Linked DNA regions of Homo sapiens: region 2 is linked to region 1. Evidence: fine-mapped expression QTL. A gene starts in region 1. The other region holds a variant in brackets. All regions are shown on one strand. Distances are from middle to middle. Region 1 holds the start of ANKS6 (ankyrin repeat and sterile alpha motif domain containing 6). Region 2 overlaps ANKS6 (ankyrin repeat and sterile alpha motif domain containing 6).

What was found.
Region 2: its variant is fine-mapped to the expression of ANKS6 in whole blood (TOPMed, PIP 0.96).

What each region holds. Positions count from the first base shown.
Region 1 is chr9:98,794,327-98,799,707 of GRCh38, forward strand. ANKS6 (ankyrin repeat and sterile alpha motif domain containing 6) reads right to left here and starts at 2,229. Exons shown (of 15, transcript NM_173551.5): 1 at 1,807-2,229. The coding sequence starts at 2,165. LOC124902229 (a long non-coding RNA gene) reads right to left here. Exons shown (of 2, transcript XR_007061689.1): 2 at 4,122-5,283. RefSeq lists enhancers at 1,492-1,992, 1,993-2,493 and a silencer at 1,752-2,371.
Region 2 is chr9:98,753,046-98,758,426 of GRCh38, forward strand. It overlaps ANKS6 (ankyrin repeat and sterile alpha motif domain containing 6), which reads right to left. Exons shown (of 15, transcript NM_173551.5): 12 at 3,375-3,558. Among named protein-coding and RNA genes, the nearest start is that of ANKS6, 41 kb to the right of the region's middle. The variant A/G (reference allele first, on the strand shown) is at 2,943.

The sequences.
Region 1 (5,381 bases):
TTGAGCAGGATTCTGGGGGCGTATCCAGATCCAAGGAAGAAGAGCACAAGGCTGGAAGGTGTCAGCACACAGGCCATTCATTTGCCTACCCCGATGTGAGGGACAGACACACTGTACATCCTTCTGGAAGTCTTCCATATATACTACTCCTCAACTTGACCTTTTCTTATGAATTACGCAGCAGAAAGCTGGAGCACAACTCAACACAGGCAGAGATGCTACCTGAATATAGAGTCGGTGTCACACCAACTGAGGAACAGCACATTTTAAAATACCCAGGCTCAAGACTATCCTGCAGAACTTGGTTAAAACTGATGATCTGGGGTCTCTGAGACACTCTGAGGCATGTCAGTGCTGTAGTCACAAACCTCACTCAGTAAATTCCTCAGGGGGCTCACCAGGGCCCCTGTGCACGCACTTGGTGGATTGCAGAGATGAGACACACATAACACATCAGTGGCTCCCAAACCTACCATACAAGAGAATCACTGGGGAGCCTCTTCTCACACAGAGTCCCTGTCTCTTACTCCCCTCACTGCCCTGGGCCTTCTAAATCACAATCTCCAGAAAAGGAACTCAGGAATCTGCACTTAGACAAGCATCCTGGTGATTCTGATGTGTGGCCAGGTTTGGGTACTGAGGAAGCCAGTCAGCATTAACATGGTGTGATGGATGCTACCACAGAGGCCTTTCTGCTGCGGAGGGACCAGAGAACAGGGAGATATCATGGCAGGCTTCACAGAAGCCAGATCTCTAGATGCCATCCTTGCTGTCTCTCTTAACCCCTCCCCAAGGGCCAGTCGTCAACTCCTGCTGATCTACTCCCTGAATATATCACAAATTCATCTGGGTGCCCTCCCTCCGCTGTCTCCATTCTGGTCTAGGCCACCATCACCTCTCACTCAGACTGCAGCAAACTCTACCTAACCAGCCTTTTTGACTCTAGCTTACCCTAGAGTATCTAATCTATTCTCACACTTCAAGGAAAGTAATTTTTCCAAAACGTAACTCTCATCCTGTCACTCATTCTGCCTAGAACCTTCCATGACTCCCTAGCACCTTCCATGACTCCCTAGCACCCTAGGATAGCTAGCGTTTCTCAGCTCCCACACTCCCCCAACTCCCTGGCATCTGCCTTCTCTCCAGGGAGGACTAGTACATCATTCTACTCATACATTCTACGCATACCTCATTCTACCAGTCCTACCAGCTCGTGCACCCAAGCCTTTGCATGGGCCTCCCATCATGCCTTCCCACAGCCCACTTGTAATGTCCTGGCTAATTCTCAGGTATCCGCAGGTCTCCACGTGGATATAAACATCTTTTCTACCAGAAACCTTCCCCCACGTCTCCAAAATGGGTCACCTGCCCCACAGCTACTCAAACCTTTCCGGTCAAGCTCGTTCCTTTGCCTGGCCTGCCCACCAATGCCCTGGGTGGGGACTCTGCCTGGGTCTCGCAGCACCCTCAACGCCAAGCCAGGAAGGGAAGGCAGGTTCTGAGGAAACTCTTACTGCAATAAGAAATGAATTAAATCTCTAAGGTTCTAAGTCTCTACAATTCTATTCGCTGTCTCCAGATTCTATTCTGAAAGGCCAAAATTTCTAAGAATCTGATTTTATGTTAATTCAAAAGTGTTTCCACGTCTATGCTCAAAGTTTACAAAAGACTACTCAAAGTTTACCATTCCAACTCTAAGGAGTCCTTAACTCTTCACCTCCCGGGGCATCCGGCCGCCGGGGACCGCGTCTCGGGCCAGCGCCGGGCACCACTCTGGTCCCGGGCCCCCGGGCCCCGCCGCCTCACCTGGCCGCCTGCATGAGCGCGCTCCAGCCGTAGTGGTTGCGGCTGTTGACCGAGGCACCGCGGCGCAGCAGGAAGCGCACCAGCGGTTCGTGGCCCCCGGCCGCGGCGAACTGCAGTGCGGTGTTGCCCGCCTCGTCCGAGCAATCCACGGGCACCGGAGCCCCGACTGCCCCCGCCGCTGCGGCCCCGGGCCCGGCCACCTCGGCCCCCGCCGGCTCCGCGCCCGCCTCCGGCTCCGCGCCGCGCTCGGCTGGCTCCGCCGCCCCCGGCTCCAGCAGCCGCCGCGCCGTCTCCGTGTCGCCCTGGTCACACGCGCGCAGCAGCAGCTGGAAGGCCGGGGGCAGCCCGCCCTCGCCCATCGCCGCCGCCACGCGCGGCCCGCTCCCGTCCGCCCCGCCGGCCGCGTCGGCTCCGCCCCCGGATACCGCCCGCAGGCGCCCCCTTCCGGCCACCCGCCCGCGCCGCGCGCCTACTGTGTGCCGGGAGCGCGCCGGGGCTAGGGCCGCGCGCCTGCTGTGTGCCGGGAGCGCGCTAGGGCCGGGGCTGCGCACCTCCAGTGCCCGTATTCGGGAGTCCAGGGACGCTCAGAGGAGCGCCCGCCGCAGACCCGCGTGTTCCCTTTTGCCTCTTCGGCGCCCTCTCGCCGCCCTGTCCCGGGGCTCCAGAAACTTCCTGTCAGGGCAGAGGTGGGAGCGGCCACGCCATCCCCTCTTCACGCTGTGGTCAGGGCCCTGGGCCCGGGTCTGAGTCCGCAGCTGCGTGGGCCTTGACTTTACTAGCGGGCTCCGCTGACCCCACCGCAGCCCCTGGCACTGAACCTGCCCTTCTAGAATAAGGAAGCGGCTGAATTAAGGAACGAACGGATTGTTTCCTCACAGTGTCCTGCGGTGCCCTTAATGTCGCTCCTTCATCTGGGCCAGGCTGCTGGGGCTAAAAGCGCCTCCTGTTCTCTCTCTCTCCCCCACCTTTTATTTCAACTATTATTATAGATTAAAGGGTACAGGTTTGTTACATGGGTAAATTGTTACATGGGTAAATTGCGCGACGCTGAAGCTTGTGGTCCCAACGATCCCGTCACCCAGGCAGTAAGCATAATACCCACCAAGAGGTTCTTCAGCCCAGAGTCCCCTCCATCCCTCCCTGGCCTAGCGATCCCCAGCGTTTGTTGTTCCCATCTTTGTGTCCATGTGTACTCAATGTTTAGCTCCCACTTATAAGTGAGAACATGCAGTATTTGGTTTTCTGTTCTTTTTAGGTCGCTTAGGATAATGGCCTCCAGCTTTATCCATGTTGCTGCAAAGGGCATGATTTCGTTCATTCTTATGGCTGCATAGTATTCCGTAGTATTCCATCATATTCTATCGTGTATATGCACCACATTTCTTTCATTCCTTCCCTCTCTTCCCTCCCTCCCTCCCTATCCCCCTTCCTTCCTCCCTCCCTCCCTCCCTTTCTCCCTCTCTCTCTCTCTCTCTCTCTCTCTTTTGACAGGGTCTTGCTCTGTCATCCAGGCTGGAGTGCAATGGTGCAATCTCTACTCACCACAACCTCTGCCTCCCAGGCTCAAGCAATCCTCCCACCTCAGCCTACCGAGTAGCTAGGACTGCAGGCAAGTGCCACCACACCCGGCTAATTTTTTGTATTTTTGGTTGAGAAAGGGTTTTACCATGTTGTCCGGCTGGTCTCAAAGTCCTGAGCTCAAGTGATTCACCTGCTGTGGCCTCCCAAAGTGCCAGGATTACAGGTGTGAGCCATCACATCTGGCTCTGTACCACATGTTCTTTATCCAATCTACTGTTGATGGGCACTTAGGTTGATTCCATACCCTTGCTATTGTAAATGGCACTGCAATGAATATACAGGTGTCTTTTTGATAGAATGAATTATTTTCCTTTGGGTATATACCTGGTAGTAGGTTTGCTGGGTCAAATAGTTCTATTTTAAGTTCTTTGAGAAATCTCCAAACTGCTTTCCACGGTGGCTGAACTAGTTTGCATTCCCACCAACAGTGTATTTTCTCCACAGCCTTAGCAGCACCTATTGTTTTTTGACTTTTTAATAATTGACATTCTGACTGGTGTAGATGATATCTCATTGTGGTTTTGATTTGCATTTCTCTGATGATTAATGATGTTGCGCATTTGTTTCATATGTTTGTTGGCTGCCTGTATGTCTTCTTTTGAGAAGTGTCTGTTCATGCCCTTTGCAGAGACACAACGAAAAAAAGAAAACTTCAGGCCAATATTCCTGAAAAACATAGCTGCAAAAATCCTCAATGACATACTACAAACAGAATCCAGCAGCACATCAAAAAGTCAATTCACCATGATCAAGTAGGCTTTATTTCTGGAATGCAAGGTTGGCTCAACATGCGCAAATCAATACATGTGATTCACCATATAAACAGAATCAAAAACAAAAACCATATAATCATCTCAATAGATGCAGAAAAGGCCTTCAATAAAATCCAACATCCCTTTATAATAAAAATCTTCAAAACAGATTAGGCATTGAAGGAACATACCTCAAAATAATAACAGCCATCTATGACAAACCCATAGCCAACATCATATTAAACAGGCAAAAGCTGGAAGAAGACTCTCACCACTCCTATTCAACATAGTACTGGAAGTCCTAGCCAGACAACCAGGTAAGAGAAAGAAATAAAAGGCATTCAAATAGGAAAAGAAAAAGTCGAACACTCTGTCTTTGCGGAGAGTATGAATCTATACATAGAAAACCCTACAGAGTTTGCCAAAAGGCTCCTGGAAATGATAAACAAATTCAGTAAAGTTTCAGGACAGAAAATCAATGTATAAAAAGCAATAGCAGTTTGATATGCCAATAACATTCTAGCTGAGAACAAAATTAAGAACACAACCTCATTTACAATGGTCACAAAGAAAATGAAATACCTTCTCTCTCTTTATCAGCGGTCCTTGAAGTGTGTCCCACACAGCAGTAGCACCATCACCAGCTGCAACACTGTTACAAACGCAGATTTTTCTGGCCCTACCCAAGATCTACTGAATCAGAAATTCTGGGTGTGGGTTCAGCAACCTATATTTTAACAAGCCCTCTGGGTGATTCTGATGCATGCTAAAGTTGGAGACCCACGTTTGATCTTCATTGCACGCCTGCCATCCACCGGGGAGGGCCCAGATGATCATCCCTAGGTTGCAGAGGAGGCAACCGAGGCACAAAGAGGTTGTGTCTTGCCAAAGACTCCACAACTATTCTGCAGGAGAGCTGTGAGTAGGACTCAGGTCTTCTGACATCGAGTCCAACTCTCTTTCCATTTTCAACAAATATGTATTGAGTGCCTGCCATTTCCAGACACTGTTTTAGGTGCTGGAAAAGCTGCAGGATTTAGTACAAGGTTCTTCTGTAGCTCACAGATCCATGAGAGCCTGAGAACCAGTTCTGGAGGCCCCAAAGCCAGGAACAATGACCCAAATCTCATGCCGCAGCTGCACCCTGTAGGAAGATGGGGTTGGTTCAGGCCCTTTTTGGTGTTCCTGGCTTCAGATTCAGAGGCTGAGGTGACAGTGCCTGACTGGCCCAACTTGGGTCAT
Region 2 (5,381 bases), 41 kb before region 1:
ACTGGTTCTCGGGGGAAGGTGTATGCATGTATATAGGCACATAAATCTATTGCAGATTTACTGATATAAAGGATTTATAGCACACAATTTACAAATAATAAAAAATACAATATTCTTTCTTATAAATTCCATATAGCCAATTGATTCTCACCAAATGCTTTCATTTGTTTTTGCCCTACTCTTGTACCCACAGCCAAGGAGTATGGTTCCAACATGAACACTGGCTGAGAGTTTTGTTTACATGAACAAGAAACATAAAAAAGAAACAACAAAGACTTACGTTGGAACTTCAGGTGAGCAACTTGGCTGAATCAGATAATGGTTTTCAAATACTGGAAGAGTATTTTCTCAATTTTTTGTGCTACTCACAAGATAACGGTTACAGATACAACCTACTTTTAAGTTTAATCCTCATTGTTAACATTTTCCCATCACTGCCTAGATTACATGTAGACAATATCTATAAGACAACAAATCAAGCCCCGGATTGCTTGAGACCAGGGAGGTTGAGGCTGCAGTGAGCTGTGATCACACCACTGTACCCCAGCCTGGGTGACAGAGTAAGACCCTATCTCAAAAAAAAAAAAAGCAAGCCCTGATTGATGGTGTTTGCCAATTTCCATGGTGTAAATACCCCCATCATAGCCAATTTCAACCTACCAATCTAATGCCCCTGAAAGTGAAGCTGAGCAGAGATGCGCAGTAGGAACACATCATTACGGGGTATTCACACTGCAGGTATGAGATATACACAACCTCAAGAGCACAGATAATAAAATATACAAAAATGAGTAAAAAATACATTTTAAGTACAATATACTGTTATATTTCTATAATTCAGTTAATTCGAAGTTCATGTAATTTGTAAATAATGGTTGTGTTTAACAACCAGCTTGGGCATGTCCTATAAACTGAACAGTCGGCTCTGGCACCCCACTGCCCATCTCTTCCCAGTGTCGTGGTCCAGCTGGAGTGCCCGCTCACCAGGGGAGCCTACCATGGCACATGGTGCTTTGCTGATAACAGGTATGACCTCACCTTGTGTTACACTCTAATGTCATTATGTTGAATGTGTCTGTATCCCTGTGAGTTCCCCTGGGTGCATAGGTTAGGGCATCCAGGGGACTGCCCAAGAAAATTTCCTGGAACAAATGTGAGGCTGAGAAGGTGATGCTGTCACCAGCCTTGCTGCTTCAACAGGTGGAGTCCAGAGAGGAGGAATGCAGATGGAGACATGAGGCAGGGAAAAGCTCACGTGTCCTTGACTGGGACCAAATATTTCCCAGAAGAATATAATAAAAATAGCTCTTTGGGGGCCGGGCGTGGTGGCTCACACCTGTAATCCAAGCACTTTGGGAGGCCGAGGCGGGCGGATCACGAGGTCAGGAGATCGAGACCATCCTGGCTAACACGGTGAAACCCCGTCTCTACTAATAATACAAAATAATTAGCCAGGCGTGGTGGCGGGCACCTGAGGTCCCAGCTACTTGGCAGGCTGAGGCAGGAGAATGGTGTGAACCCGGGAGGAGGAGCTTGCAGTGAGCCGAGATCGCGCCACTGCACTCCAGCATGGGTGACAGAGCAAGCCTCCGTCTCAAAAAAAAAAAAGCTCTTCGGGGATGGATTGCAGCCCCCGGCCTATAACAATCATATACCCACAGGACAAAGGGCTCGCTGCCTCAGGACCCAGGAACTCTCAACAGGAAAACTAAGCTTTATGAACCAGAGAAATTATTCTACAAAGAAAGTGCTATTGGCCCTCTTCTTTTTTCATCCCAATTAGGACTCTGCAAACCATTTTTAATAATGAACAAGAGGGAAAGAGAGTGGGTACAAACAGTCCATACAGACATCCACTGTCTCCACTCTTTTTTGGAAAACAATGGGGCACAAATACCTAACTGAATCTCTAGGGGCTTCAATTCCTGAAAACCTCAGAGGTGGGAGAATTCACGAGTGTGGAACTCAAGACTCCACATAGAAAATATGGTTGGGGAGGAATGAGTTTGCTGGTGAATCTCTGAGGCCTTGATAAATGATCACACTGGATATCACAAAACAATAAAAGCAGCCCCCAAATAAGGAGGACACCAGTGGCAGCATGCATTTATCAACTTAGTACAGACTAGAGCCTGTGCAAGTGATTCCAACTTATCTTGCTCAGCAGAACCTGCTCAGCACCCTACTCCTCAGCAGCTGCAGCGAACTGCCCGCAAACGCATTTGTGAGGGCCACGAACACAATCAGATTTTCCTCCCTGCTGACTTATACTCCTCGATTTGCACCTGCCTGGACCCCAGGTCTCACCAAAGCTTCCTCCCTCTTTCCCCCATCCCAGCTCCTACAGGCCTCTAGAGGGCAGTTTAAAAGGATGGGATTCCTTTCTTCATCTGCCTTTATCTTTCCTGGGGCCTGACTGCAAAGCCTCTGCTCCTGCCCTACCACCCACTCCATCTTCCCTCATCATTCCCGCATGGGGGCTGCAGAGGCTGTAATTCACAAGGCAGGTTCCAAGGCTCTCCTGGTTGCAGCAGACATCAACTGCTTTTGCTTGCCCTCACCCATCCCCCTTCTCCTGGAAACAGTATTTCCAAATTTTCCTTTGAGGAACTATTTCTCTCCCACTTCCAATACACATATGTCAGTAGGTTGGACCCCAACTCCGCTCCAAAGCAGACAACTGACCGAAGGGGCATGGCCAATCACCACATTCCACCCCTGTGGACACAGAGATAGTCAAGGGAGGGCAACTGACCTAGGTCATTATAAATACAGCCAAGCCAATGGCCTTTACACTTGGGATTTTGCTGGACCTACTGAGAAAGTAGCACTCGTTCTGCTGGAGTTGAAAAATTGGTGGGAAGACAAAAGTATGCCTGAAGCTGCTTGCCACCACTTGGAGAGAACCTACCTGAGACCTGGAAACACTCCCAAAGCACCTG[A/G]ATTCAGGCATGGTTGAAGCACACCCTAGACACTCCCATCATATGAGCCAATGAAATGTCAGGTTTCATTTTTTTCCCTTGAACCAGTGTGAGTGGAGTTTCTCTCACTCACAACTGAAAGAATCCTGACAGGTACAGGGTCCAGGGAAAGTAAGTTCGTGTTGGAGAAGCACTTCCATGGGTGTATGTTTGTGCATGTAAACAAAAATCACCTATACTCAAAAACTCTTTGAGGGAGCTTACCATACCTTTAGCATAGTGAAGACAAAAATACAAGGTACAATCAGAGAAGAGGAGGGACATGTTTGTCGTAAATCTTCTTAAAACCTGACCTAGGATGGTTATAGCAATTAAGGTCACCTTGCAGTTCCTTGCTGCCAGGTCATCATGGTGAGAGGAATAGGTGGGGTTTCAGGCCCTCAGGGGACTCACCCTCATCTGTGATGGTGCCACTGCTGGAGCCCCCACTGCTCTTGGACTGCCGATGGGATGACGAGGAAGACACTGAGGACTCTGCAGTGTGCCCTTTGGGTGAGGGGGAGGGCGTGAGGGTTGGAGAGGTGCTCTTGGAGGTAGTGGAAGTTCCAGATGGAGGCCTTTTGCTGGTCTCCAATTTCTGCTGAACAGAGTAAGACAAATACATAAGCCATCACCTGTAGGGTAGAAATGAGGAAAACAAGACACCCACAACAGGGAACATGGGTGGTATTTGATTCAACATGATGTTTAACCAAGACTATGAAATCTACTTTTAAAAACATGGAAAGCAGAAATATCATTATCAGAACAATTAGAGGAAAATGCAACCCTGGAGCAGAGATAGGATAAGATCAAATAGCTGCATATTATGAGTCAGGAACCACCCCGCTCCCCACCCCGCCCCGCTCCCCCAATCCCAGTCCTGCCCTCCAGCTACTTGCATTGTGGCTTTGGCCAAGCCCCCCGAGCTCTCTGGGCCTCAGTTAACCAGCTGTAAAATGAAAGTCTGGCTTAGGGAGGCACAAAGTCTCTTTCTGCTCTTGATGCTCCTTCATCTACACCAAAGAACACGTATTCTTCCCTTTTTCTCATTGGTTAGCTTTAAAACAAAGGCTTTTTACATTAAAATAATTCTAGACGTATAGAAGAGCTGCACAGAGAGAACAGAGTTCCCACATACCCCTCACACAGCTTCCTGATATTAATATCTACATCGTCACAGTATAATGATCAAAACTAACAAGCTGACATTGACACAACACTATTAACTAAACTACAGACTTCACTCTGTTTCCCTGGCTGTTTTGCTTATGTCCTTATGCTGGTCCAAGATCTGATCCAGGAACCCACACTGCATGGAGCTGTGCTGTATCTCTGTAGGCTCCTCTGACCTGTGACAGCGCTGTCTTTCCTTGTCTTTCATGACCCTGACACTTGGGAAATCTTGGTCAGGTATTTTGAAGAATGCACATCATTTTGGGATTATCTTAAGTTTTCCCATAATTAGATGTGCTTGTGAATGTAGGGGGCAATGAAGTGATATGCCCATTCAGTGCATCGTTATGCAGAGAGGACACAGTATCTGATTACTGGTGATGGTAACCTTCATCACTTACATGAGGGGATGTCTGCTGGGTTTCTCCATTATAAAGTCACTATTTTTCTTTTTAATATTATTTGGGCTGGGCATGGTGGCTCATGCCTGTAATCCCAGCACTTTGGGAGGCTGAGGCAGGTGGATCACAAGGTCAAGAGTTCAAGAGCAGCCTAGCCAATATGGTGAAACCCCATCTCTACTAAAAAATACAAAAATTAGCCAAGTGTGGTGGTGGGTGCCTGTAGTCCTAGCTACTTGGGAGGCTGAGGCAGGAGAATCACTTGAACCCGGGAGGCAGAGGTTGCAGTGAGCCGAGATCGCACCACTGCACTCCAGCCTGGGTGACAAAGCGAGACTCTGTCTCAAAATAAATAAATAAATAAATAAATAAATATACAAAATAAAATATCCTTTGGGAGAAGTTTTTGGGTAAATATTTATTAAGGTTCTGCCCATTAACTTTGCATTCATTGGTGAGTCTCACTGAGGCAAGTGTTACAGTGGTGTTCCCATGGTGATTTTCTATTGCCCTCCTTCCTTCCACATTTATTATCTGTAATACTTCTATAAGGAAGAGTTGTTCTTTCTCTCCTATTTATTTGCTCAATCATTTATTCCTATCAGTACAGGCTCATGGGTATTTTTTAAGCTCTGGGCCATAATCCAATATTACTGTTATTTTGTAGCTCATTATTACAGCTTTGGCCATTGTGAGATCTTTCGGGTTGGCTCCTGTACCCTTTTGACATGCGCCATCTTTCTTTTTTTTTTTTTTTGTCTTTCTTTTTAAAAGTATTTGCCTACTTTCTGACACCACAAAATATTCTAAGCTCATCTTATGTTTCTGCTGACCCAGTACTAGA